Homo sapiens: one gene and its partners. The protein of the gene in region 5 purifies or fractionates together with the protein of the main gene of each other region. This does not show direct contact. Each region holds a gene or a part of one and is shown on either strand. Other genes may lie near its edges. The genes, in order: SUCLG1, CYB5A, POGLUT3, NIT2, ETHE1, PPA1 and CLIC4.

The links.
Region 1: the proteins of ETHE1 (region 5) and SUCLG1 fractionate together in Homo sapiens (co-fractionation; one large-scale study listed by BioGRID). This does not show direct contact.
Region 2: the proteins of ETHE1 (region 5) and CYB5A fractionate together in Homo sapiens (co-fractionation; one large-scale study listed by BioGRID). This does not show direct contact.
Region 3: the proteins of ETHE1 (region 5) and POGLUT3 fractionate together in Homo sapiens (co-fractionation; one large-scale study listed by BioGRID). This does not show direct contact.
Region 4: the proteins of ETHE1 (region 5) and NIT2 fractionate together in Homo sapiens (co-fractionation; one large-scale study listed by BioGRID). This does not show direct contact.
Region 6: the proteins of ETHE1 (region 5) and PPA1 fractionate together in Homo sapiens (co-fractionation; one large-scale study listed by BioGRID). This does not show direct contact.
Region 7: the proteins of ETHE1 (region 5) and CLIC4 fractionate together in Homo sapiens (co-fractionation; one large-scale study listed by BioGRID). This does not show direct contact.

The regions. Positions count from the first base shown.
Region 1 is NC_000002.12:84,438,781-84,442,280, forward strand, and holds part of SUCLG1 (succinate--CoA ligase [ADP/GDP-forming] subunit alpha, mitochondrial precursor), read right to left. Parts: intron 2,680-3,500; coding exon 2,467-2,679; intron 2,325-2,466; coding exon 2,267-2,324; intron 1-2,266. UniProt on the Homo sapiens protein: Succinyl-CoA synthetase functions in the citric acid cycle (TCA), coupling the hydrolysis of succinyl-CoA to the synthesis of either ATP or GTP and thus represents the only step of substrate-level phosphorylation in the TCA.
Region 2 is NC_000018.10:74,250,346-74,253,963, forward strand, and holds the end of CYB5A (cytochrome b5), read right to left. Parts: intron 3,321-3,618; coding exon 3,239-3,320; 3' UTR 501-3,238; downstream 1-500.
Region 3 is NC_000011.10:108,481,385-108,484,884, forward strand, and holds part of POGLUT3 (protein O-glucosyltransferase 3 isoform 1 precursor), read right to left. Parts: intron 839-3,500; coding exon 622-838; intron 1-621. UniProt on the Homo sapiens protein: Protein glucosyltransferase that catalyzes the transfer of glucose from UDP-glucose to a serine residue within the consensus sequence peptide C-X-N-T-X-G-S-F-X-C. Can also catalyze the transfer of xylose from UDP-xylose but less efficiently.
Region 4 is NC_000003.12:100,341,257-100,344,756, reverse strand, and holds part of NIT2 (omega-amidase NIT2), read right to left. Parts: intron 1-3,500. UniProt on the Homo sapiens protein: Has omega-amidase activity. The role of omega-amidase is to remove potentially toxic intermediates by converting 2-oxoglutaramate and 2-oxosuccinamate to biologically useful 2-oxoglutarate and oxaloacetate, respectively.
Region 5 is NC_000019.10:43,510,202-43,513,701, forward strand, and holds part of ETHE1 (persulfide dioxygenase ETHE1, mitochondrial), read right to left. Parts: intron 1,366-3,500; coding exon 1,236-1,365; intron 1-1,235. UniProt on the Homo sapiens protein: Sulfur dioxygenase that plays an essential role in hydrogen sulfide catabolism in the mitochondrial matrix. Hydrogen sulfide (H(2)S) is first oxidized by SQRDL, giving rise to cysteine persulfide residues.
Region 6 is NC_000010.11:70,226,930-70,230,429, reverse strand, and holds part of PPA1 (inorganic pyrophosphatase), read left to right. Parts: intron 1-30; coding exon 31-89; intron 90-3,500.
Region 7 is NC_000001.11:24,751,947-24,755,446, reverse strand, and holds part of CLIC4 (chloride intracellular channel protein 4), read right to left. Parts: intron 1-3,500. UniProt on the Homo sapiens protein: In the soluble state, catalyzes glutaredoxin-like thiol disulfide exchange reactions with reduced glutathione as electron donor. Can insert into membranes and form voltage-dependent multi-ion conductive channels.

The DNA of each region.
Region 1 (3,500 bases), on a different chromosome or scaffold from region 5:
TGTAGCTAGGATTGTAAAACGCACCAATCAGCGCTCTGTAGCTAGCTAGAAGTTTGTAAAATGCACTAACCAGTGCTCTATAAAAACCCACCAATCAGCGCTCTGTAGCTAGAGGTTTGTAAAATGGACCAATCAGCAGGACACGGGCAGGGGACAAATAAGGGAATAAAAGCTGGCCACTCCAGTCAGCAGCTGCAACCCACTCAGGTCCTGTTCCATGCCATGGAAGGTTTGCTCTTTCACTCTTCACAATAAATCTTGCTGCTGCTCACTCTTCAGGTCCATGCCACCTTTAAGAGCTGTAACACTCACTGCGAAGGTCCGCGGCTTCATTGAAGTCAGCGAGACCAAGAACCCACTGGAAGGAACCAACTCTGGACACAGTGTCACATATTTTCTTCTTTTTTTTAAAAAAAAAAAAAAAGTCCTTTTTCAAAGGAATTAAAAGCAGTCTCCCAGACGACTGTCTCATCAATGGGTTATGACCATTCACAAAGGCAAGGTCTAAAGGACTTCCCTGAACTTCTCTTGATTTTCATTTTTTAGGTTTATGCTCACCTTAGAAAGCAGAGCAGTGATCAGAAAGGCAACTCAGCACAGAGCATTCCTTCCATGCTCACCTTAAGACCACAGCCTTCAAAACAGACCCAAGAATATAAGAAATATTCAAATATGTACAAGAGCATCAGTGATACATGGATCTGGCCCCACTGGAACTCAGATGGCCTATGGAGCTCCCTGAAATCTCTCTTGTAAATGAAATTATCAAGTACTGCCACTGGCAGCAGGGCTGACAGCTCCAAGAGACATTGGTAATAAAGAAAAATCATGATCTTTAACCCAATTCTGTAAACTGCACAGCCGACACCCACTGTGACAATTAATTACCCTTATTAGTAGCCATGGTTTATAGATAGAGAAAAATATGGTCAATCATCTTTCATGACTGAAAAACAGTATAGTTTAGAGAAATTTTGGTGTAAAGCCTAAACACAAGCCTAATGTGGCTAACTTTGAAATGTTACTTTGGCTATTTCCTCAAGGAACTAACCAAGTAGCAGGGCAATTTTCCTGACAGGCCATCTGAGTTCCCTTTCTGATCACTGCCCTGCTTTCTAAGGTGCCTACAAACCTAAAACATTTTGAGAAAGTTTGTGATATCTAAAAGAACAAGGTAATTATTGAGCAGGTATGTGAATGGCCTTATAAGCACATGAAAAGGTGCTCTACATTATTAGTCATCAGGGACACTCAAAACCACAAGAGATACCATTTTACTCTCAGTAGAATGGCTACATTTAAAAAGGCTAATAGCCGGGCATGGTAGCTCACGCCTGTAATCCCAGCACTTTGAGAGGCCGAGGCCAGCAGATCACCTGAGGTCGGGAGTTCGAGGCCAGCCTGACCAACATGGAGAAACCCGTCTCTACTAAAAATACAAAATTAGCTGGGCGTGGTGGCGCATGCCTGTAATCCCAGCTACTCGGGAGGCTAAGGCAGGAGAATCACTTGAACCTGGGAGGCGGAGGTGGGGGTAAGCCGAGATCGAGCCATTGCACTCCAGCCTGGGCGACAGAGCAAAACTCTGTCTCAAAAAAATGAAGACTAACAATACCAAATCTTTGTGAAGATATGGAGCAAGTGGAACTCTCCTACATTAATGGTGAAAATATAAAATGATATAGCCACTTTGCAGAACTATTTGGCAGTTTCTTATAAAGTTAAATATACTTGACTTATGTTCATATGAACATGACTTAGCAATTCCATTCCTACACATTTTGCCCAAGAGAAACGAAAATGTTTCCACAAAAAGACCTGTACACAAATGTTGACCTAAGCCTTGTTTGTAAGGCTCAAACATGAAAACAACCCAAATGTTCATTAATGGGAGAATGAATAAACAAACTGTGGTATAATTATACAACAGAATACTCCTTAGCAATAACTAAGTTATAACAGTTAATGAAATTAACTACTGATATATGCAAACACATGGAGTAATCCACAGAGTGCTGAGCAGAAAAAAATCTTTAAACTCCCACCACCAAAAAAATCTTCACTGATTCTGCAGAATTGTAACGGCTTCTCAAATAAACTCATTATATTCAAGATACAGAATTGATAGACTACAAAACTTCCCTGGTAAATTCTACTCAAGTCAAATTAATTAAACTTGATTTGCAAAGTCAAAAATTCTTTGTGAGTTTTGAGGGTTTAAGGCAAATAACGTTTTAATCTATAAGAATGTAACAAACAAACTCACCAATCCTTCCTTTTTTGTGAATATGGCCAGGCATGATGCCAATTTTACATTCTCCAGGCTGAAAGTAATCATAGTTTTCAGAAATGTTAAAAAAAAAAGTCACTCACAGGTCATACACACAAATACACTCGCATTCACTCAAAGCTGTTTAGCCTTGTGAGAGGCTTAATCTGAGTTTCTTTTTGTTTTTTTGCACTCACATTGATGACTCCAGGGCAGTTGGGCCCAATTAGCCTTGTCTTTTCCTGGCGCAGCAGTTTGTGCTTGACTCGTACCATGTCCTGCTGGGGAATTCCTTCAGTGATACACACAACCAAGGGAATTTCTGCCTCAATAGCTTCATTAATGGCAGCAGCAGCAAAAGGCGGAGGAACATAAATGACAGAAGCCGTTGCTCCTGTCTGTTCTTTGGCCTGAAACATTAACGACGAAGCACCTTATTATTTGTTAAATCATAAACATTGTAAAATAAATTCAATACCATCATTTTAATAATGTCTTGGGGTAAGAAAAGGACACTACCCAGAGACATAGCATTCTTCCCATTCTCAAATTTGCTACACTGTCAGAGTAGAACAGAATCAAGCATAGCCCTTTCTCAGCCCATTTGAATGCCACTGTGAATTGAAAGCTTCTGTGACATCTCACTCTCTATGGCATGTCAGTAAATCTGAAAGCAGCCTGACAGTGAACAGAGTCAAAGAATGCCAACATATCATCCACAAATGATGCCGGGGGTTAAAAATAATTTTTTAAAACTCTGTTCAAGATGATAACAGAGGGGGAGACACAAAAAACATTAAAACTAGTATGGAATCAAAAAAAGTCACATCATGGGGATGTAGGTACTTTAATGAAAAGTACCTACATTACATAGTTTTCTACCTCTAAAGTCTACAAATACTGCCAGAAGCTATACTGTGACAACAGCAAATATTGTGCTGGGACGTCATATGGATGAAAGGTACCAACCCTACTCATTCAAAAAGCCCTTTGTAAGAGCAGAACGGGTGAAAAATAAACAATATCTGTCAAAAAACTTATAGAATATTCCAAATGTCACAACTATTTGTGTCACTATAAATTATAAATGGATTGCTTAGCAAGAAGAACTTTCTTTAAAAAAAAAAAAAAAGCAAAAAGAGGCTCATGACAAAAGAAAAGTCAACCTAGAGGAATTGTAAAAAAACATCTCCTCTCTATATTTTGAGGTTATAAAATCAGCCATAATAGA
Region 2 (3,618 bases), on a different chromosome or scaffold from region 5:
ACCGCCAGGTGAGGACTGCTGGCCACCAGTGGCAGCTGGAAGAGGTGAGGAAGGATTCCACCCAGAGTGTCGGAGGGCGAGTGGCCCAGCTGAAACCTTCATTTACAACGTCTGGCCTCTAAATTATGAGAACACATTTCTGTCGTTCTAAGCCACCCAGTTGTGGTGTACTTGGTTACAGCAGCCTAGGGAAACTCCCACAATCTAGGTAGAAGCTGAGGATCCGGACGCCATCTGTGTCTGCACACCTCTCAGAAAGGCTACGCTGCAAAGGAGAATCTGCTTCCAGAACTTCCACTTGCCTTCATCTAGACACCTCCAGAGGAAGGGAGATGCCTGTTCCAACCAGAGCCCTAATCATCAACTCAAACCCAGGAGGTGAGCAACTGACACACGTGCACCCAATACAGTCCCTGTGTTACAGGAAAGGGGTCCCAATCCAGACCCCAGGAGAGGGTTCTTGGACCTCGCACATGAAAGAATTCAGGGCAAGTCCGCAGTGCAAAGTGAAAACAACTTTATTAAGAAAGTCAAGGAATAGGCCCGGCACAGTGGCTCATGCCTGTAATTCCAGCACTTTGCGAGCCTGAGGCGGGTGGATTGCCTGAGGTCAGGAGTTCAAGACCAGCCTGGCTAACATGGTGAAATCCCGTCTCTACTAAAAATACAAAAAAATTAGCTAGGCATGGTGGCATACGCCTGTAGTCCCAGCTACTCAGGAGGCTGGGGCAGGAGAATCACTTGAACCTGGGAGTCGGAGGTTGCAGTGAGCCAAGATCATACCACTGCACTCCAGCCTGGGCGACAGAGTGAGACTCTGTCTCAAAAACAAAAAAAAAAAAAAAAGAAAGTTTACTTTGCCAAGGTTGAGGACATGCCCGTGACAAAGCATCAGGAGGTCCTAATGACATGTACCCAAGGTGGTCAGGGCACAGCTTGGTTTTATGCATTTTAGGGAGACATGAGACATTGATCAATATATGTAAGAAGTACATTGGTTCTGTTTGGAAAGGCGGGACACCTTGAAGCAAAGGCAGGAAGACTCAAAGCAGGAGGGAGCTTCCAGGTCACAGAGAGGTGAGACACAAAGGGTTGCATTCTTCTGAGTTTCTGATTAGCCTTTCCAAAGGAAGCAATCAGATATGCCTCTCTCTCAGTGAGCAGAGGCTTGACTGAGTAGAATGGGAGGCAGGTTGGCCCTAAGCAGTTTCCAGCTTGAGTTTTCCTTAGTGATTCTGGGGGCCCAAGATGTTTTCCTTTCACAAGCAGCAGATGAAAAGAAAGGGCAGCCTCTGAAGTCTCTCACCTCTCTGAAGGGAAAGCAATAGAGAAAAAAGTGTCAAATATCTTTCCTTGAGAGTCTGGCTGCACAAACTGTAAATGTTAAAATTAGGAAGTAAACTCTCCTTTACTCCACATGTTGTTCCCAAAACACATGAAGAAACATTGCCAGCCACAGCAGCAAATTGCTGAGTCACTGATAAAAATGTCAAAGTTCAACTGTTATGTTTCTTAACGATATACAGATGCTATTACTCAACATCTTAAAAATGATTTACAAGTTAACCCTTTAATGTCATCTAAGGTACGACTGACCCACTTCGATTCACTTCATAGTTGATTTAGGAGCAATGTTTTAAAAACTACTAAAATGTGAAGCTTTATAGCTAAAAATCACAACCAAAAATATTGAAATATTTACATAGGTCCCTTAACAAGTGTTGTAATTTATTTTGAAATAGAAACTACTTGTCAACTTTCAGTGACTAAAGAAGGCAAAGGCGGTGCATCCTATTTGATTATAAAGGTTGTACTCTGTAAGAACAACACAATTCCTTTCCACTGCACGCGGTCACTTCTGAAGAACCTCGTGGTTTGTCAGCTCATGCCAGTGCAAATGCAGTCACAGCCAATGACACATGTACTGGGTTCTAACAAATTCAGCTTTCAAGTTTCCACATTTAAAAGAATAACACATAAGGCAGAGAATAATAAATGGGAAGTAAGATGACTGAATCAGCCCCTTAGAGCCCCCAGGAGGAGACAGAGCCACACCAGAACTCTTCAGAGCTTGACACTAGCCGCTAAATTTCTTCAAAGATCAGATTCCAATGTCCCACAATCTCCTTACAAATTAGAAAACCAGCCTTTCCTTAGAAGAGTTTACAAACAATTCTACTCTCTGAATGAGGAATTCTTAAAACTTTAGAACCTATGAAGCTGTGAGTGCCTTTGCAATGATACGTGTAAGCTGAGAGAATGGACAGTTGCGATGCCCTCTCATGGTTCATGTGTTTTTAAGTTGCTGATGTTTTTCAATCAGTGAAGATAAGAAGTCTCTCTTATAGGCCCTGTAGGCTACTTTCTTTTTTTTTTGAGACAGAGTTTCACTCTTGTTGCCCAGCTGGAGTTCAACGGCGCGATCTCAGCTCACTACAACCTCTGCCTCCTGGGTTCAAGCAATTCTCCTGCCTCAGCCTCCCAAGTAGCCGGGATTACAGGCATGCGCCACTACGCCCTGCTAATTTTGTATTTTTAGTAGAGACAGGGTTTCACCATGTTGGTCAGGCTGGTCTTGAACTCCTGACCTCAAGTGATCCACCCACCTCAGCCTCCCAAAGTGCTGGGCTTACAGGTGTGAGCCACGATGCCCAGCCGCTACTTTCTTTTTAAGATCTATTTCAAGTAGGACAATTATTAGAAATCCTTAAACTATAATTTCTGGCCTTTCTTAATTTCCTTGAAAAAAAGAAACTATATCGGAAGCATACAATACATGGTTACTCAATGAGATGTGACGATGTGAAAGGAGACACTCAAACCTATTTCCCGCACCTCCAGTCATATGGCCTCTGTGGGTCTGGATGAGTAACACATTGAAGGAATCCTCTAAATAACCAGATTCTAAACATTAAAGACAATTATACACCAAACAGGCAAACACGGTGCATACTTTAAAAGCCAAATATATTTTTAAAAGATCATGCTTATAATAAGTAAATTACACATTAAGGAAACATCAAAATAAAGTAGATGAATAAAAAGGCACACTCGAAAAATTTGAGCGCAGAAAGGACAGTTCTTTTTGTTTTGTTTCTAATGTCGGAAGAAAAAGAAAGAGATATATTAAAATCATTGTTTTCAAGTGAAGGTTTCTGTCAGTTGAAGTAGTTAGCAATGGCTTCTTTTCTCCCGTGTCCAAAGCAGGCTCTTCCTGCGCTGACTTCTGAGGAGGTGTTCAGTCCTCTGCCATGTATAGGCGATACATCAAGGCGACGGCCACTGCAGAGATGGCAGGGATCACCCAGTTGGTCCACCAACTAGAAAGACACAAAAAGCAATGATGCTGACATGATGTGCACTGTGGTGGACTCAAAATCTTTGCTCCTTCTAACAGAAAATTACCAGGGCATGTTTTTCTTAACTCTGTAATGAATTTTGCTGAAAAGGCAACGTGGATTTGCTAAAAGTGACATGAGTGTAACACATGCCCTGCTATACTAGGAATCACTCTGCCCTGCTGGCTTTATGAGAAAACTCATGCCCCACTTGGCTGGGCTCAGTGGCTCACGCCTGTAATCCCAGCACTTTGGGAGGCCAAGGCAGACGGATCACTTG
Region 3 (3,500 bases), on a different chromosome or scaffold from region 5:
TTGAAGCCATAAAAAAATTAGGATTATGAATTTGACATTTTAATATGGCAAGCATAATCCTCTTTAATCTACCATTGTCATTTAAGATGCTAAAGCTCTTTTATCAACTCATCTTCTAAAGTAGATGTTATTTCAACGAAAATATGGGATTGAGTCTCAATTTGCCAGAAGCACTTTCAAGTTTAGAGTTTAAAAAAAACAGTCTTTTTATTTGCTGTATTATGTAAAAGAATGCTCTAATTTCATCCATTTGTCTGCTAGTGAAAGCTCACGCAAGTATTCGTGTATTCTGTTGTATAATACTAGGAAATACCTGAAATAATGTCGGACCGTGTTCAAAGCAAAAAAGAGATTCAGTGACTGGGTCCACTCACCAAGGCATTAGCTTCTTCCATTTTCTGTGTTTCACAATAAAACGTGAGCTAGCCCTTTGTTCTTACAAAGGGTGACCAGAAAAAACTATATAACTGAGGAACATCCACAAATCTTTAATCCCTAGGTTGGTCAGAATTTTCAGTACAAGACTTTTTCTAATATGCTACTGAATGCAAACATATATGTATAACCCACTCTGTCTCTAAGCTTTTTCTTCATTAATTAGCCTTGCATTTCCCTGAATACCTGTATTTCCCTGAATAGAGAGGAGATCATTTGTAACACCCCGCATGGCTTCAAGCATGGAGTGGGTGATGTCATACGTTGGAAGGACAACATCTCTTGAATCCAGAGAGCCACACCATGAAATGATAGGTATGGGGCTAGGGGTTCCATTGACTTTTCGATGCTCCAAGGGCCAATCTCCAAGATTAACATAAAATTCTAAATCTGGGAGAAGGACCTAAATAAACATATAAACAAACATCAGTGCTGGGAAGATCTCAGTCTTTGGTACTAAGTACAACAGTTCTTTGGTTTTCTTACATATTTTTGACAGGGCTAACCATTCAAAAACAGAGAAGAGAGAAGAATGCCTGTCATTGACAGGATGGCTGTGAATTTGTCACCTGTGAGGATCCTGCATGACAAATTCACTTAACCAGGAGTCAGCTACCTCTGTCCAGAGATGCATGTAAAATTCAGTGTTTGAGGCTGGGCGTGGTGGCTCACACCTGTAATCCCAGCACTTTGGGAGGTTGAGGCGAGTGGATCGTCAGGAGTTCAAGACCAGTCTGGCCAACATGGTGAAACCCTGTCTCTACTAAACTTACAAAAATTAGCTGGGCTGGTGGCAGGCACTTGTAATCCCAGCTACTCAGGAGGCTGAGGCAGGAGAATCGCTTGAACCTGGGAGGCAGAGGTTGCAGTGAGCCAAGATCGCGCCACTGCACTCCAGCCTGGGCGACAGAGCAAGACTCTGTCTCCAAAAAAATAGAAAAAGAAATAAAATAAAATAAAATGTAGTGTTAGAGAAGTGAAAATTGTGTAGAGAGGTAAGAATGAATAGCTTCGATAACCCTCTGCCAGCTGCCTAAGCAAGAGAATCTACAAAGTTAGAACCAAACCCTTGTTTTCCTTCACTGTCCCCATCTTTGCCTCATGTGCCCTTGCCTCTGGAACCTGCCAGTCCATTTCCATCTCCACGGTCAATGTCTCAGTTTAGACTCTCATCATTTCTTGCCTAGATTGCTGCAATAACTTCCTTACTAGGTGTTCTGATTCTGGGCTCTCCATACTGTAATCTGCTCTCCACAAGGCTGCTCAGATTTCCAAAACTAAAATTAATTCTAAAACTAAAATTTCTAAAATAACTTTGTTAATGTCACTACCAAGCTTAACAGAACCTTAAGCCTATGGCACAAGATCTCAACTCTCTGGCTGGCATTCAAGGCCTCACAATCTTGTCCCAGCTTGGCTATAAGCCTCATCTTTCATCTGCCCACCTACCAGGAAACCTTAGGCTACTCTCTGAAAATGCCATCCACCTCAACATGTAATTCCATTCACTTGGAATGTTTTACTTATTTAACTTGGCAGTCTCCTTTCTCATCCTCCAAGCCCAGATCTAACACCACCTCTTCTATGACTCACCCTCCTCAGGCACTTAAACCCTAGGTACTTAATTCTCTTGAGGCCTATCATCATATTGGGATATAATTATTTGTTTGTATTCACATCCCACCCCCACTTCCAAACAACAAAAACAAATCCCACTACAGTGGGCTACTCAGAGACTAGGACTGAGTCTCACTTATCTTAGATTTATTTCTTCCCCAGCCACTGGGCAAAGAACAAAAGGAAAGGGCAAGAGATGTGAATATTCACCCTCTTGCTTCCCTGTCATTATTATTATTATTATTATTTTGAGACAGTGTTTCACTCTGCCACCCAGGCTGGAGTGCAGTGGCGTGATCTTGGCTCACCACAACCTCTGCCTCTCAGGTTCAAGTGATTCTTGTGCCTCAGCCTCCCAAGTAGCTGAGACTACAGGCACGCACCACCACACCCGGCTAATTTTTGTATTTTTAGTAGAGATGGGATTTCATCTTGTTGGCCAGGCTGGTCTCAAACTCCTGACCTCAAATGATTCATCTGCCTCAGCCTCCCAGAGTGCTAGGATGACAGGTGTGAGCCACCGTGCCCAGCCTCCCTGCTATTATTTATAAACTCTTTAATAAACTCCACATTGGAAGTGCTCACTGTGGAGTAGGGTTTCTCAAGCTCATATTATTGACATTTGGGGCTGGATAATTCTTTGCGATGGGGTTGGGGGGTGCTATCCTTTGCACTGTAGGATGCTTACCCACTAGATGATAATAGCAACCCCTGAGTTGTGACAACCAAAAATGTCTCTAGACATTGGCAAATGTCCTCTGAGGGGCAAAATCATCCCTGGTTGAAATCTACTGCTATGAAGCCAGCAACATGGATTAAAGAGGCAAGAATACAGGGCACAGTTGACTAGTTGTAGCCCGGGAAGAGAGCACTACCTTTAGGAGCAGATGCCCATCACATGCTTGTATCCTCACATTGTGGGCTGGTGGTGGAGGGGTTGGGGACTGCTATTTAAAGTAAGAACTGACTGCAGCCACACAGTCAGCATACTTGGGGAATTGTATAACATATCAGGAAAACTGTGTTTTTTTTGGTTTATAAAACTCCCTTGGCCAGGCGCAGTGGCTCATGCTGAGCACTTTGGGAGGCCAAGGCGGGCAGATTACGAGGTCAGGAGTTTGAGACCACCCTGACCAACATGGTGAAACCCCTTCTCTACTAAAAAAACAAAAATTAGCCAGGCATGGCGTGCATCTGTAATCCCAGCTACTCAGAAGGCTGAGGCAGGAGAATCGCTTGAACCCAGGAGACAGAGGTTGCAGTGAGCCGAGATCGTGCCACTGCACTCCAGCCAGGGTGGCAGAGTGAGACTCCATCTCAAAGCAAACAAACAAACAAACAAACAAAAAAACTCCCTTTATGGTCTCTCTAAGTAAGAAAGATAAATATTGCCCACCTCCATCCTTCACCCTGTATGATCAGAAACAAGAACAAAAGGTGGTTTAAGT
Region 4 (3,500 bases), on a different chromosome or scaffold from region 5:
AGAGAACAGCTTGAACCAGGGAGGTGGAGGTTGCAGTGAGCCAAGATCACACCACTGCACTCCAGCCTAAGCGACAGAGCAAGACTCCATCTCAAAAAAACAAAAACAAAAACAGAAAATGAAAGAGCATCTAAAAACACCAATGAGGAATAAATCTCACAAATGTTAAACAAAATTATACCCAAAAAACTATAAAAAGAAATTGAGAGAAAGTAAAGAAAGCGTAATAAATGTCAGGATATATACCACATTCATGGACTGGAAAACTTAATACTAAAAAGATATACTTCAAAGAGTTGGGTTAATAGTCCAATGCTGGCTGTTCTTCCAGCAGGTACACAGTAGCTCCTATCAGACCAGTTTTCTTGTGGTTAACTATGAACTCTGGACAAAATAAAAGGCACAACTACTTAAAGCACTGAAGAATGACCAAAACAAAGCAGACAAAATCTGAAGAGAAGAACACAGACATGTGGAAGCAGGGAACAGCCCTGGGTGAACTTCCTGGTGCTATTTACAGCTGCTACCCTGAAGCAAGGTCCCAGTTGCTGTGATAAGTAGTGGTGAAAATGACCCATAATCACACTGGCTTGAAGAACCAGAGCTGGAAACCAAGGGGGGAAATCCTGAAATGGAGAAAGCAAAGAGGGAGAGCCCTAAATTCTGCATATAAAATCTTTCTAAATCTCTGGCTGATCACTGAGTTAAATAGAAGTGGGGCAGAACAACCAGATAGAACAGAGCAGCTAAAGTTGCTGCCCACGTTTCAAAGAAGATAAGAGTTTGGTGTTTGGGTGCGGCCAAGTTAACCATCAGTTAAAACAAAATATTCAACACTTTTTGGAAGACTGTAATAGCATCTTGAATCTCTACAATATATAATCCACTGTACAATCTTAAATTAGTAGATACTCAAAGAAACAGAAGTGTGATCCAAACTGCAAAGAAAAGGCAATCAAATGAACACAGATCCTGCCATGACCCAGATGTTATAATTTTTTTCTTGTTGTTTGCTTGGATATGAGTTTATTTACATCAGGGGCCTTTTAAAGGCCTAATAGTCTCATTCTGTGGCACACAGATGTGATAATTATCAGACTTTAAAGCAGCTATAGAAACTAACTAAGCTCAACACTGTAAAGAAAAATATGCTTTTAATGAACAAATAGAAAATATCATAGAGTAATAAAAACTATAAAAAAGAAGCAAAGGGGTATTTCAGAACTGAAAATTTTAATATCTCAATTTTTTAAAATTTCACTGGGTTGGCTTACGGGAAATTGAAGAAGACAGAAGAAACAGTGAATAAGTCTGAAAGATCAACAGAAATTATCTAATCTGTAGAAGAGAAGGAAAAAGTATTGGAAAGACAAAAACAGAAAAACAGAGCCTGGTGACCTTGGAAAAATATTTAAAAATATAATATACATATACTGGAGCTCCATAAGAAAAAGGAACAGAAAAATATTTAACAAAATAGTGTCAAAAAACTTCCCAAACACAGTGAAAGATTTAAATTTACAGTTTCAAGAAGTACCAAGGAAGGCAAAGACAAAGGAAACCACATCTAGGCATATCAGAGTCAAAATACTAAGAACTAAAGATTATGAAAACACTTGAAAGAAGGAGAGAAAAAACAACAAATTATATCCGAGGGAACAATACAAATTACTACTCACTTCTCATCAGGGAAGAAAAAAAAAAAGGCTAGATAACAACTACTAGTGGAAAAAAAGGAAAACTATCAATCCAAAATTCTATTCCAGCAAAAATATCTTTCAAGAATGAAAACAATGTAAAGATATATTCATAAAGAAAAACTAACAGAATTCCTAGCTAACAGATCCTCAGAACAAAAATTCTAAATGAGATCCTTTGGTCTGAAGGATATACCAGATAGAAGGAGGATCTTCAGGAAGGAAAGAAAAACACCAGAAATGATAAATATTTGGGTAAACATAAAGATTTTTTTCTTCTTAATTTCCTTAAAATACATATGACTATTTAAATCAAGTATTCCTGTTTTGTGGGATTTATAACATATATACATGGAATACAAATGACAACTATAGCATAAAGAATGAGGGCAGGGGCAGTGGGGTAGAAAAATGGACCTATATCATTATAAGGTTCTTAAATTTCACATGAAATGATATAATATGAACTCTTAAGTAGCCTGTGAAAAGTTAAGGATGCATATGATAATTCCCAGGGCAACAACTGGAAAAAAAAAAAAAGCTAAGATGTATAACTAAAAAGCCAATAGATAAATTAAAACAGAACTCTAAAAAATATTCAATTAATCCAAAATAATACAGAAAAGATGAACAAAGGGAAAAAAAAGTAAAATGTCTCTATCCCTAAATTCAATCATATCAATAAGTGCATTAAATATAAATGGACTAACCACTTCAATTAAAAGACACAGATTGTCAGAATAAAGAAAAAATTAAGATACAATTATATGCTGTTGACAAAAGAGATCCACTTAAAATATAAAAACACATATAGCTTGAGAACAAAGAACTGGAAAAACCACGTACCAGCAAACATTAGGCATAAGAAGGCTGGAGTGGCTATAGTGATAGCAGAGATAAAGCAGAATTCAAGACAAGAGGTATTACAAGAAAAAAAAGAGATATTTCATAATGATAAAAGGGTCAACTCATCAAGAAGACTTAATGATACTAAATGTATATGATTTTTTTTTTTGAGATGGAGTCTTGCTCTGTCTTGCCCAGGTTGGAGTGCAGTGGCGCAATCTTGGCTCACTGCAGCGTCCACCTCCTGGGTTCAAGCAATTCTCCTGTCTCAGCTTCCTGAGTAGCTGGGACTATATAGGTGTGCACCACTACACCCAGCCAATTTTGTATTTTTAGTAGAGATGGGGTTTCACCATGTTGGCCAGGCTGGTCTTGAACTCCTGACCTCAGGTGATCCACTTACTCAGACCTCCCAAAGTGCTGGGATTACAGGCATGGGCCACTGCACCTGGTCATGTATACGCATTTAATACTAAAAAGATGGCAACTCTTCCCACAGTGTTCTCTATATATTCAATGAAATACTAATAAAAATTACTATAGGTTGGCTGGGCACGGTGGCTCATGCCTGTAATCCCAGCACTTTAGGAGGCTGAGGCGGGTGGATCATGAGGTCAGGAGATTGAGACCATCCTGGCTAACACGGTGAAACCAAGTCTCTACTAAAAATACAAAAAATTAGCTGGGCATGGTGGTGGGCACCTGTAGTCCCAGCTACTCGGGAGGCTGAGGCAGGAGAATGGTGTGAACCCAGGAGGCAGAGCTAGCAGTGAGCCAAGATTGTGCCACTATACTCCAGCCTGGGTGACAGAGCGAGATTCTGTCAAAAAAAAAATTACTATAGCTTGTTCCTTTGCAGAAATTGACAGGCTGAGTCTAAAACTTATATAAAAATGCAAATGGCCAAGAATAACCACCTGTGCCAATCAGTCAAAACCCTAATACATGTGTGATATA
Region 5 (3,500 bases):
GAGATTCTGAAACTATACTCGCTTTCTACAGGGAAGCTCCTAAATCTAACTGCCCCTAGCAGCTAGACTCCAAATGGATCATTCATTGCTCCCTGGCAATTAAACCGCTGGCTTTAACAACTTCTTTTTTTATCTTTTTTTTTTTTTTTTTTGAGATGAAGTCTCACTCTGTCACCCAGGCTGGAGTGCAGTGGCGCAATCTTGGCTCACTGCAACCTCCGCCTCCTGGGTTCAAGTAAATCTCTGCCTCAGCCTCCCGAGTAGCTGGGACTACAGGCACCCACCACCATGGCCAGCTAATTTTTGTATTTTTAGTAGAGACGGGGTTTCACCATCTTGGCCAGGCTGGTCTTGAACTCCTGACCTCATGATCCACCTGCCTCGGCCTCCCAAAGTGCTGGGATTATAGGCGTGAGCCACCATGCCCAGCCCTTTGTTTTTTTTTTTTTTTTAGCTATATTTGTTTCTTAGAGAGGGAGTCTCACTATGTTGCCCAAGCTGGGCTCAAATAGGTAACTAACACACCCCTGAATCTAACTGTCCCCCAACAGCTAAGCCCCTGAATCTAACTCTTCCCATACTCTAGCATGGGGGTCCTTAACCCTGGGTACCGGTCCGTGGTCTGTTAGGAACTGGGCTGTGCAGAAGGTGGTGAGCGGTGGGTGAGTGAGCAAAGCTTCATCTGTAGTTACAGCCACTCCCCATCACTCCCGTTACCACCTGAGCTCTGCCTCCTGTCAGATCCGCAGCAGCATTAGATTCTCATAGGAGCACAAACTCTATTGCGAACTGCACATGCGAGGGATCTAGGTTGCGTTCTCCTTATGAGAATCTAATGCCTGATGATCTGTCACTATCTTCCGTCTCTCCCAGATGTGACCATCTAGTTGCAGGAAAACAAGTTCAGGGCTCCCACTGATTCTACATGATGGTGAGTTACATAATTATTTCATTATCTATTGCAATGTAATAATAAAGTGCACAATAAATGTAATGCATTTGAATCCCCGAAACTATGCCCTGCCATGGTCCATGGAAAAATTGTCTTCCACGAAACCGGTCCCTGGTGCCAAAAAGGTTGGGGACCACTGTTCTAGCAGGTAAACTCCTTGAATTTAATACTGAAGCCCCCTAAAAGTCTAATGTCCATCCATTCATTCTTGTAACAGATACTTCAACACTTGACACACACGTAACTATATGAAGATCTTGGGCTGGATAAAGGAGCTGGTCACCTTGCTGGAAGTCTGTCCGCCCACACCCACGGATCAACAGGGCATCTCCAGTGAAGGCCATGCTGTGGTCATTCAGGACGAAGGTGACACAGCCTGGGGTGTGGCCAGGGCTGGCCCTGGTCTCCAACGCCTGGCAGGGGTGGAAGAGTACAGAGATAGTCACCAAGAAGCCTTCTAGATGAAACTGGCCCCCAAAGCCCCACCCTACCCCAGGGTCTTATCTAGATAAACATTTTGGTAAAAAATGTAGATTCCCAGGCTGTAATCTTATATTATCAGAGTAAACTCCAAGTGGATTAAAGATTTAAATGCATGAAAAATAAAACCGCAAAGCTGTGACACACAACAACAAAAATACAAATAATATCTGACCTCTGGTTAGGAAGGTGATATGGTTTGGCTGTGTCCCCACCCAAATCTCATCTTGAATTGTAGCTCCCATAATCCTCATATGTCATGGGAGGGACCAGGCAGGAGGTAATTGAATAATGGGGGCAGGTTTTTCCCATGCTGTCTCGTGATGATGAATAAGTCTCACGAGATCTGATGGTTTTATAAAGGGCAGTTCCCCTGCACACTCTCTCTTGCCTGCTGCCATGTAAGACAGGTCTTTGCTCCTCCTTCGCCTTCCACCATGATTGTGAGGCCTCCCCAGCCATGTGGAACTATGAGTCCATTAAACCTCTTTTTCTTTATAAATGACCCAGTCTTAGGGATGTCTTTATTAGCAGCATGAGAAAAGACTAATACAGTAAATTGGTACCAGTAAAGTGGGGTGCTGCTATAAGGAGATGTGAAAATGTGACTTTGGAACTGGGTAACAAGCAGAGGTTTGAACAGTTTGGAAGGCTCAGAAGAAGACAGAAAAATGTGGGAAAGTTTGGAACTTCCTAGAGACTTGTTGAGTGGCTTTGACCAATATGCCGAGAGTGATATGAACAATGAAGTCCAGGCTGACATGGTCTTACATGGAGATGAGGAACTTTTTGGGAACTGGGGTAAAGGTCACTTTTGTTATGTGTTAGCAAAGAGACTGGCAGCATTTTGCCCCTGCCCTAGAGATCTGTGGAACTTTGAACTTGAGAGAGATGACTTAGGGTACCTAGTAGAAGAAATTTCTCAGCAGGAAAGCATTCAAGAGGTGACTTGAGTGCTGTTAAAAGCATTCAAGAGGTGACTTGAGTGCTGTTAAAAGCATTCACTTCAGTTTTATGTATTCACAATGATATGGTTTGGAATTGGAACCTATGTTTAAAAGGGAAATAGAGCATAAATGTTTGGAAAATTTGCAGCCTGACAATGTGATAGAAAAAAAAACCCATTTTCTGAGGAAAAATTCAAGCCTGCTGCAGAAATTTGTATAAGTAACGAGGAGCCAAATGTTAATCACCAAGACAATGGGAAAAATGTCTCCAGGGCATGTCAGAGGTTTTCACAGCAGCCTCTCCCAACACAGGTCCAAAGGACTAGGAGAAAAAATGGTTTCATGGGCAGGGCCCATGGCCTTGCTGTTTTGTGCAGTCTCAGGACTTGGTGCCCTGCATCCCAGTCGGGGCTAAAAGGGGCCAAGTACAGCTCAGGCCATTGCTTCAGAGGGTGCAAGCCCCAAGCCTTGGTGGCTTACACGTGGTGCTGGGCCTGCTGGTGAACAGAAGTCAAGAACAGAGGTTTGGGAGCCTCCAGCTAGATTTGAGAGGCTGTATGGAAATGCCTGGATGTCCAGGCAGAGGTGTGCTGCAGGGGTGAAGCCTTCATAGGGAACCTCTGCTAGGACAGTGCAGAAGGGAAATGTGGAGTGGGAGCCCCCACAGAGAGTTCCCACTGGGGCACTGCCCCTAGTGGAGCTGTGAGAAGAGGGCCATCGCCCTCCAGAACCCAGAGTGTTAGATCCACCGAGAGCTTGCACCATGTGCCTGGAAAAGCCACAGATACTCCACACCAGCCCGTGAAAGCAGCCAGGAGTGGGGCTGTACCCTGCAAAGCCAGAGGGGCAGAGCTGCCCAAGACCATGGGAACCCACCTCTTGCATCAGCATGACCTGGATTTGAGACATGGAGTAAAAGATCTTTTTGGAGCTTTAAGATTTGACTGCCCCACTGGATTTAGGACTTGCACGGAGCCTGCAGCCCCTTCATTTTGGCCAATTTCTTCCATTTAGAATGGATGTATTTACCCAATCCCTGGATCCCACTGTATCTATGAAATAACTAAACTTGCTTTTGATTTTACAGGCCCATAGGTGGGAGGGACTTGCCTTGTCTCAGA
Region 6 (3,500 bases), on a different chromosome or scaffold from region 5:
AGTAATAACTTTTTCTAATTTATTTTGCAGAAAATGAGAAAGGACAATATATATCTCCATTTCATGATATTCCAATTTATGCAGATAAGGTAAGGCATCCTTGTTTTTGGACACAGTCTCTTTACTCAGATCAGCTAGTTCTACATATGAATTTTCTTATATGTCTCTCAACAAGTGCTTAAAATGCCTCGTTGTGCTGTGAGCTAAAGGTCTGTTGATTAGGCTGGGCGTGGTGGCTCACGCCTGTAATCCCAGCACTTTGGGAGGCTGAGGCGGGTGGAGGGCTTGAGTCCAGAAGTTCAAGAACAGCCTGGGCAACATGGTGAAACCCTGTCTCTACAAAAAATACAAAAATTAGCCGGGCATGGTGGCATGTGTCTGTAGTCTCAGCTACTTGGAAGGCTGAGGTGAGAGGATCGCTTGTGCCTGGGAGGCAGAGGTTGCAGTGAGCCGAGATGGCACTACTGTACTCCAGCTGGGTGACAGAGTGAGACCCTGTCTCAAAAAAAAAGGTCCATTGACTAAATAAGAAGTTAGTCTTAAAACTAGATTATTTAGTTAAAGGAGCAAATATAATTTGGGGAAGGAGAGGAGGAGTAAAAGCAAAAGTATTTAATCTGTCTTGGAAAAAAAAAAGAAAAAATTACATTGGTCCTTTTTGTATGTGTATTTGGAACTAAAGTCGTAATACTTCATTACTGGTTCTAAAATAAACCAGGTAGCCAGCACAGAATTTTGGCTGTGGGATCTTTATGAAACAGTAAAAGTAAACTAGATTATTCAATGAGTATAGGAAAATTTAGTAACGGGCTAGTACCGTTAAGATTTGCACAGTTAAGATAGAGTTAATACAGGTAGGCACACAGACTTCTAAAAGGACATAGCTGTTCCTGTATACACCAGTGAGAAGAAACCTAACTTTAATACAGATTGGTAGGCTTACCACAAATTGTAAAAGTCTTTACTTTTCTAGGGGAAAAAGAAGTCTACAACTGTATACACCAGAATAGCTGAGTGTGGGGCAATTGTAATCCCACTTGGGAGGCTGTGCTGGGAGGATCACTTGAGTCCAGGAGTTTGAGACCAGACTGGGCAACATAGCAAGAACCTGTCTTAGGAAAATAAATAACAATAAAATATATATCAAAATAGTTATGATTCGTGGGACTGCCAGTGACTCTTGGTTTTATTTTCATTTTTGTCTTTTTATATTGTCTAATCTTTTTACAAAGAACATGTGTTATAAGAACAACTTTAAACAGTCATTTTAAAAAACACATCTTTTCTTACTCTCCTTTCCAATGGAAGCAGTTTGTACTGTATTTAGCAACTTAACACAAGGACAAATATCTTATTCTTTTTCTACCTTTCAGTTTTTTTCCTTCAGTAAGGAAGTTTGATTCACATTGAGTACAAAGGTTTTTGAGTTGTAAGAGTTACATAGGTTATTGACTTTCTTTAGCTAGATGTCAATATACAACACGAACATCACTTTGCAGTGCACGTCTAGAATAATAGTAATTTTGTTCTTGTGTGTGCTGTCTTACTGTTTTTCTGGGCCTGACTATTAGATAGAAATAGACACATTCATTGCACTTCTACCAGGAAGTTTGCTGCAGTTCTGTACTGCCTGAAATTCCAATTTTTACATTGCTTCCCAGGAGCCTTCCTGGGTAAGACTCCAATTAGAGGCAATGGAGCAAACAGCCCTAGGCCAATTATGTGCCACAAATACAGGAGGGACTTCTAATTGGCATGTGTTTTTCCTGTGGGAGTGTCAGAGTGGTATTTATTCAGAAACTCGAATTTGTTACATCTGATTTCCTGGGAGTTGATATAAACTGCAGAATCCTTCCCTCTTCAATTGGCCCCATTGGGTTGGCTTGAATTATCTGCTTGTTGTATAATAGCATGTATATCATACTGTAGCATCTCAGACCATTTTGAGCAATGAAGAGGTATAAAATGATGACCCTAAGTTTATTGATAATACCCTGGCATACAGGTATGCTACAGGTAGGAAAACATTTTCTTGACATAGAGCTATTTTCCCAGTGTTCTAAGTGACTGTATTCCTACCAAGGACCAGAATGATCATAGATGTTTTGGTACCTACTCTTATTGCTGCTTCAGGTTACTCCAAAATAGGAAACAGGCTACATTTTGGTGTCCTGTTAAGTGTGTTCACTTAGATTACTCTCAGACACTGAAGCCTTATAAGGGACTGGTTGTGTCTATAAAGTGGATTACTCAAAGGAAGACTCTGCCCTTGGCACGCCCTGTCCCAGCTCAAAAGCACAAGTTCTTATGACTCTGGATTTTACCAGTAGTCTAGACCTCAGTGGACCTTGGGCAGAAGCCTTCCTGCCTGAGAGGCTGGAAGGAATTCTTTTGTTTTGTTTTAAAGGAAGTTACTTGTTTAAAACACAAATAAAGGTGTGGTAGACATCATTTTGGATTATAGCCTTAAAAAAAAAATCTGATTAACTTGATTCATTAGAGTGTGATTTTCTTTCTTTTGTATAAAAAATCTATTGTGATTAAGTTTACATGAATACATTCTCACGGGCTTGGCCTTGGACTTTATTCCTAATATGGTCAGTCATCCGAGGGATTATAATGAGGGAATGTCATGATCTAGTGAGCATGTACCTTTAACACAGCTCAGTCAGCTCCACTAAGGAAAAATGTCCAAGGGCTCATATTGATATCAGACTAAGGAAAAATGCCCAAGGGCTCATATCCATATCAGACTTTTTTTTTTTTTTTTTTTTTTTTTGAGATAGGGTTTCACTTTGTCACTCAGGCTGGTGTGCAGTGGCATGATCTTGGCTTACTGCAGCTTCAACCTCTCAGGCACAAGTGATCCTCCTGCTCCAGCCTCCTGAATAGCTGGAACCACAGGCATACACCACCACGCCCAGCTAATTTTTCTATTTTTTTGTAGAGACAGGGTTTCCCTATGTTGCCCAGGCTGGTCTCGAACTCCTGGTTTCAAGCGATCTGCCCACCTCAGCCTCCAGAAGTGCTGGGGTTGCAGGCGTGAGCCACTGTGTCCAACCCATATCAGGACCTTTTAATGTGGATATTCAGTTTGGCATATGCCATTAGGTAATCAGTCCAGCCAGTTCTGGAAAATCTTGTGACTCGCGTACCCTGCTTTGATTATTTCCGAATCCAGTGGGTAGAGAAGGTAAAGGCAAGGGCTCACTGGATATTTTTAAATTGTAGGGATGTCCTTTGCTCTGGGTCAATTTTAGGATCAAATATAAAAGCACCTATAGCTCAGAGTATCTTCTAACATAAAACTTCTGAGATACCAGAAATTTTCCAAAACATGGTATAAACAGTATGAAACACTGGGTAGATAAAAGCTTTCTCTAAATCTTAAAGTGCTCAAATATCATGACCTGATTTTTTAGTTTTAGAAATCAGATATTTTTCTATTCCATATCTTAAACTTTCATGTTAAATTCTAGTTCTGACAATGTAGGGTTCTA
Region 7 (3,500 bases), on a different chromosome or scaffold from region 5:
TTTTTTTTTTGAGACAGAGTCTCACTGTCGCCCAGGCTGGAGTGCAGTGGTGTGATCTTAGCTCACTGCAACCTCCGCCTCCCGGGTTCAAGAGATTCTCCTGCCTCAGCCTCCTGAGTAGCTGGGATTACAGGCGTGCACCATCATGCCTAGCTAATTTTTGTATTTTTAGTAGAGATGGGGCCAGGAGTGGTAGCTCACGCCTGTAATCCCAGTACTTTGGGAGGCCGAGGCGGGCAGATCATGAGGTCAGGAGTTCAAGACAAGCCTGACCAACATGGTGAAACCCCATCTCTACTAAAAATACAAAAATTTAGTTTTTATAGAGATGAGGACTCACTATTTTGCCCAGCCTATAATTTTTTTTTTTTTTTTGAGACGGAGTCTTACTCTGTCGTCCAGGCTGGAGTGTAGTAACACAATCTCAGCTCACTGCAACCTCCGCCTCCCAGGTTAAAGCAATTCTCCTGCCTCAGCCTCCCGAGTAGCTGGGATTACAGGCGCCCACCACCACGCCCAGCTAATTTTTGTATTTTTAGTAGAGACAGGGATTCACCATGTTGGCCAGGCTGGCCTTGAACTCCTGACCTCAGGCGATCCACCCACCTCGGTCTCCCAAAGTGCTGGGATTACAGGTGTGAGCCATGGCAGTGGGCCTATCATTGTTATTTCTTATTTCTTATACCAATATCTGGAACTGACCACTGAGAGATAAGAGGCAAGTCTCGAAATAGACAATATAATTAAAAGCCATGAGAAAATTCACTAGCTGATGCCCTAAATTACATTTACATGTCTTAAATCATCCTTGGACAATAGGTAACCATGACCTAATGTCATTTTCCTTCAGAAAGTCCCTTTCCATTCTCTATGCAAGCGTCTAAAACAGGCAAACCCATCCTAGCTTACTCCTCTACTTGACCAAAATCTTAACTCATGCCTTAATCACACTTCCCATCCTGCCTAACACATTTTCCTTTTATGGACTCACAATTCCCTACTCAGGGGACATCAGAACACGGAGGCTCCACAGCTCTAACGAAACAGGAAGCGGAAAAGGATGGCTCACCATCCTTACTTACTGGCTTCTAGGCACCTCTGCAGGCATCTTCCCAAACCAACTGTGACATTTCCTGACAGCCAGGTTCTTCTCCCAATTGCCTCTTTCCTATCATTATTCATACTCTGTTAAGCTTTTCGTGTGCTCAGTCTCCTAGGCTCAAAGCCTCCTGCCTCTTCCCCATTCTAGGCTCCTTTCTCACAGGTTTTTACATTAAACCAAAATCATCAAATTTGGCCTTTGCCAAAAGTAGCATTATTAGGTCTTCAGGAACAGCTCAGGCAAAAAGTTAAAATAATAGGTTTTCATTAACTTCATACTTTACATTCATTTCTGTCTCCTGAATTTTCCCCCCGGAAACCTCAAATGAATGGCAAATCAATTAGATTCAAGGTAATATTGTCTGAATATTGAGTTAGCTTTTGTTAATTACCAGAACAGTTTTCAGCATCATTTCCTATAGAAAATTTATTTCATTTTTTTCTGTTAGAAAAAACAAAGACGGGGGGAAGTTTGAAGCCTGTCCTTGAAACAATATAAAGAATTCCCACTTTAAACTGTCAAAACAGTCCATCTGTACAATCCATTTGCACCTTCCCAAGTGCCACTGAAAAGTTATTAAACAGACAGCAATCCAAAAACACAGGAAAGTGTGGGGAGAATGAAAAAAGTTAGGAAAATGTATACATTAACAAAAACCCAAGTTAGGTTTTAAAAGTCTCATCCTCAACTTTTAAATAACTTGTCTCCCTGGCACTATAGATCTGAATCACTCCTGGTTCCTTCTTAGGTATCAATCTACCAATTGTTTCCTGCATAAGGAGTTTCCACATAATGTCAAAACTCACATTCCCATTCTTGGCTATTCCGAACCCACCTATTCACCTCCTTTTTCAAGGTCAAGTTTAAGCCTCCTTCCATCTTTCCCCATGTCTCCTAGCCCTACTTAATGTGAGCCCCACTTGACTCTTTAAGCATGGACCATCTTGTATTGTTTTCTTTCCAATAAAATTTGTAAACCTAAAGAAATTAACTGTTTAATAATTTCTTATATCTTCCATAGTACTTAACTCAGTATTAGCACTTAGTTCATGCCGGTACATTCTTTAAGTCATAGTTAATAATAACTAGAAGAGACCTTTGTGATCATCTAGCCCAAGCCCTTCTTTTATACCTTGCTTATATAAAGTATTCTTGACTCTAAGAATTCCACTATTTACTTCTTTTAGAACAGTGGTTCTTAGCCTTGGTTTAGGAATTTCCAGAAAAAAAGCCTCACATTAGAATTTTTTACTGTAATTTCAAGGATTTACAGAACTCCCTGATCCTACTAATAGAGCCCACATTTAAAAATAATATACTATTAGGCTGGGCGCGGTGGCTCACGCCTGTAATCCCAGCACTTCGGGAGGCCAAGGCGGGCAGATCATGGGGTCAGGAGATCGAGACCATCCTGACCAACACGGTGAAACCCCATCTCTACTAAAAATACAAAAATTAGCTGAGCATGGTGGCACGCGCCTGTAGTCCCAGCTACTCCAGAGGCTGAGGCAGAAGAATCGCTTGAACCCGGGAAGCAGAGGTTGCAGTGAGCCAAGATTGCACCACTGCATTCCAGTCTGGCGACAGAGCGAGACTCCGTCTCAAAAAAAAATAATAATAATAAACTATTATCGATGACAAAAGCAGGTGTTTACTATGTGTCAAGCACTCTTCCTAAAGCTTTACATAGGATGGTATACGGTTAGACCACACTTGCCAGCCTCTCTTGCAGATGAAGCTATGTGATTAAGTTCTCTCCAATAGAATGTGACCGGAAGTAACAGGTAGAACTTCTGAGCTGGGGCCCTTAAGATGTGCTTCCTCCATATTTTCCACCCCCCACTGGCAACAGACAGTACTTGTCACCCACCAACTTTGACAATTCAGAAGAGGACAATGCTCTGGGAGTTAGTGGACAAATAAGCTAGAAAGAGCCCGGGTCCCTTAATGACTCTGAGGAGGAAAGCCACCCTAACATCTAAGACATTCTCCTGGACTGAGGGGTGAGAAATAAACTTCCATCATATTTGAACCACTGTTTGTGGGGGGATAACTTATTACAGCAACTTAAACTACCCTAACTAATATGCACAGATTAACAGTTTTAATCCCCTCAGTAACCATATAAAATTGCTATTATTATTATCCTGATATTAGAAGTTAGGAAACTGAAGCACTGAGAGCTTAAAAACTTGCCTGACATACTAGAAGCCAGATTCAAGTCAAGCAGTGTGGCTCCAGAGTCCAAGCACATTAGGAACCTCTGCCAAATATCTCAAAAGAAACAGACTCTTATGTGTTATGCCACCCTGCACCAGATTAACTTTTTACAAACACCACCCCAATCCCAGCAGCTTGGTGACTACTTGCTGACAGTGATCATCCCAGTTCACAGTGG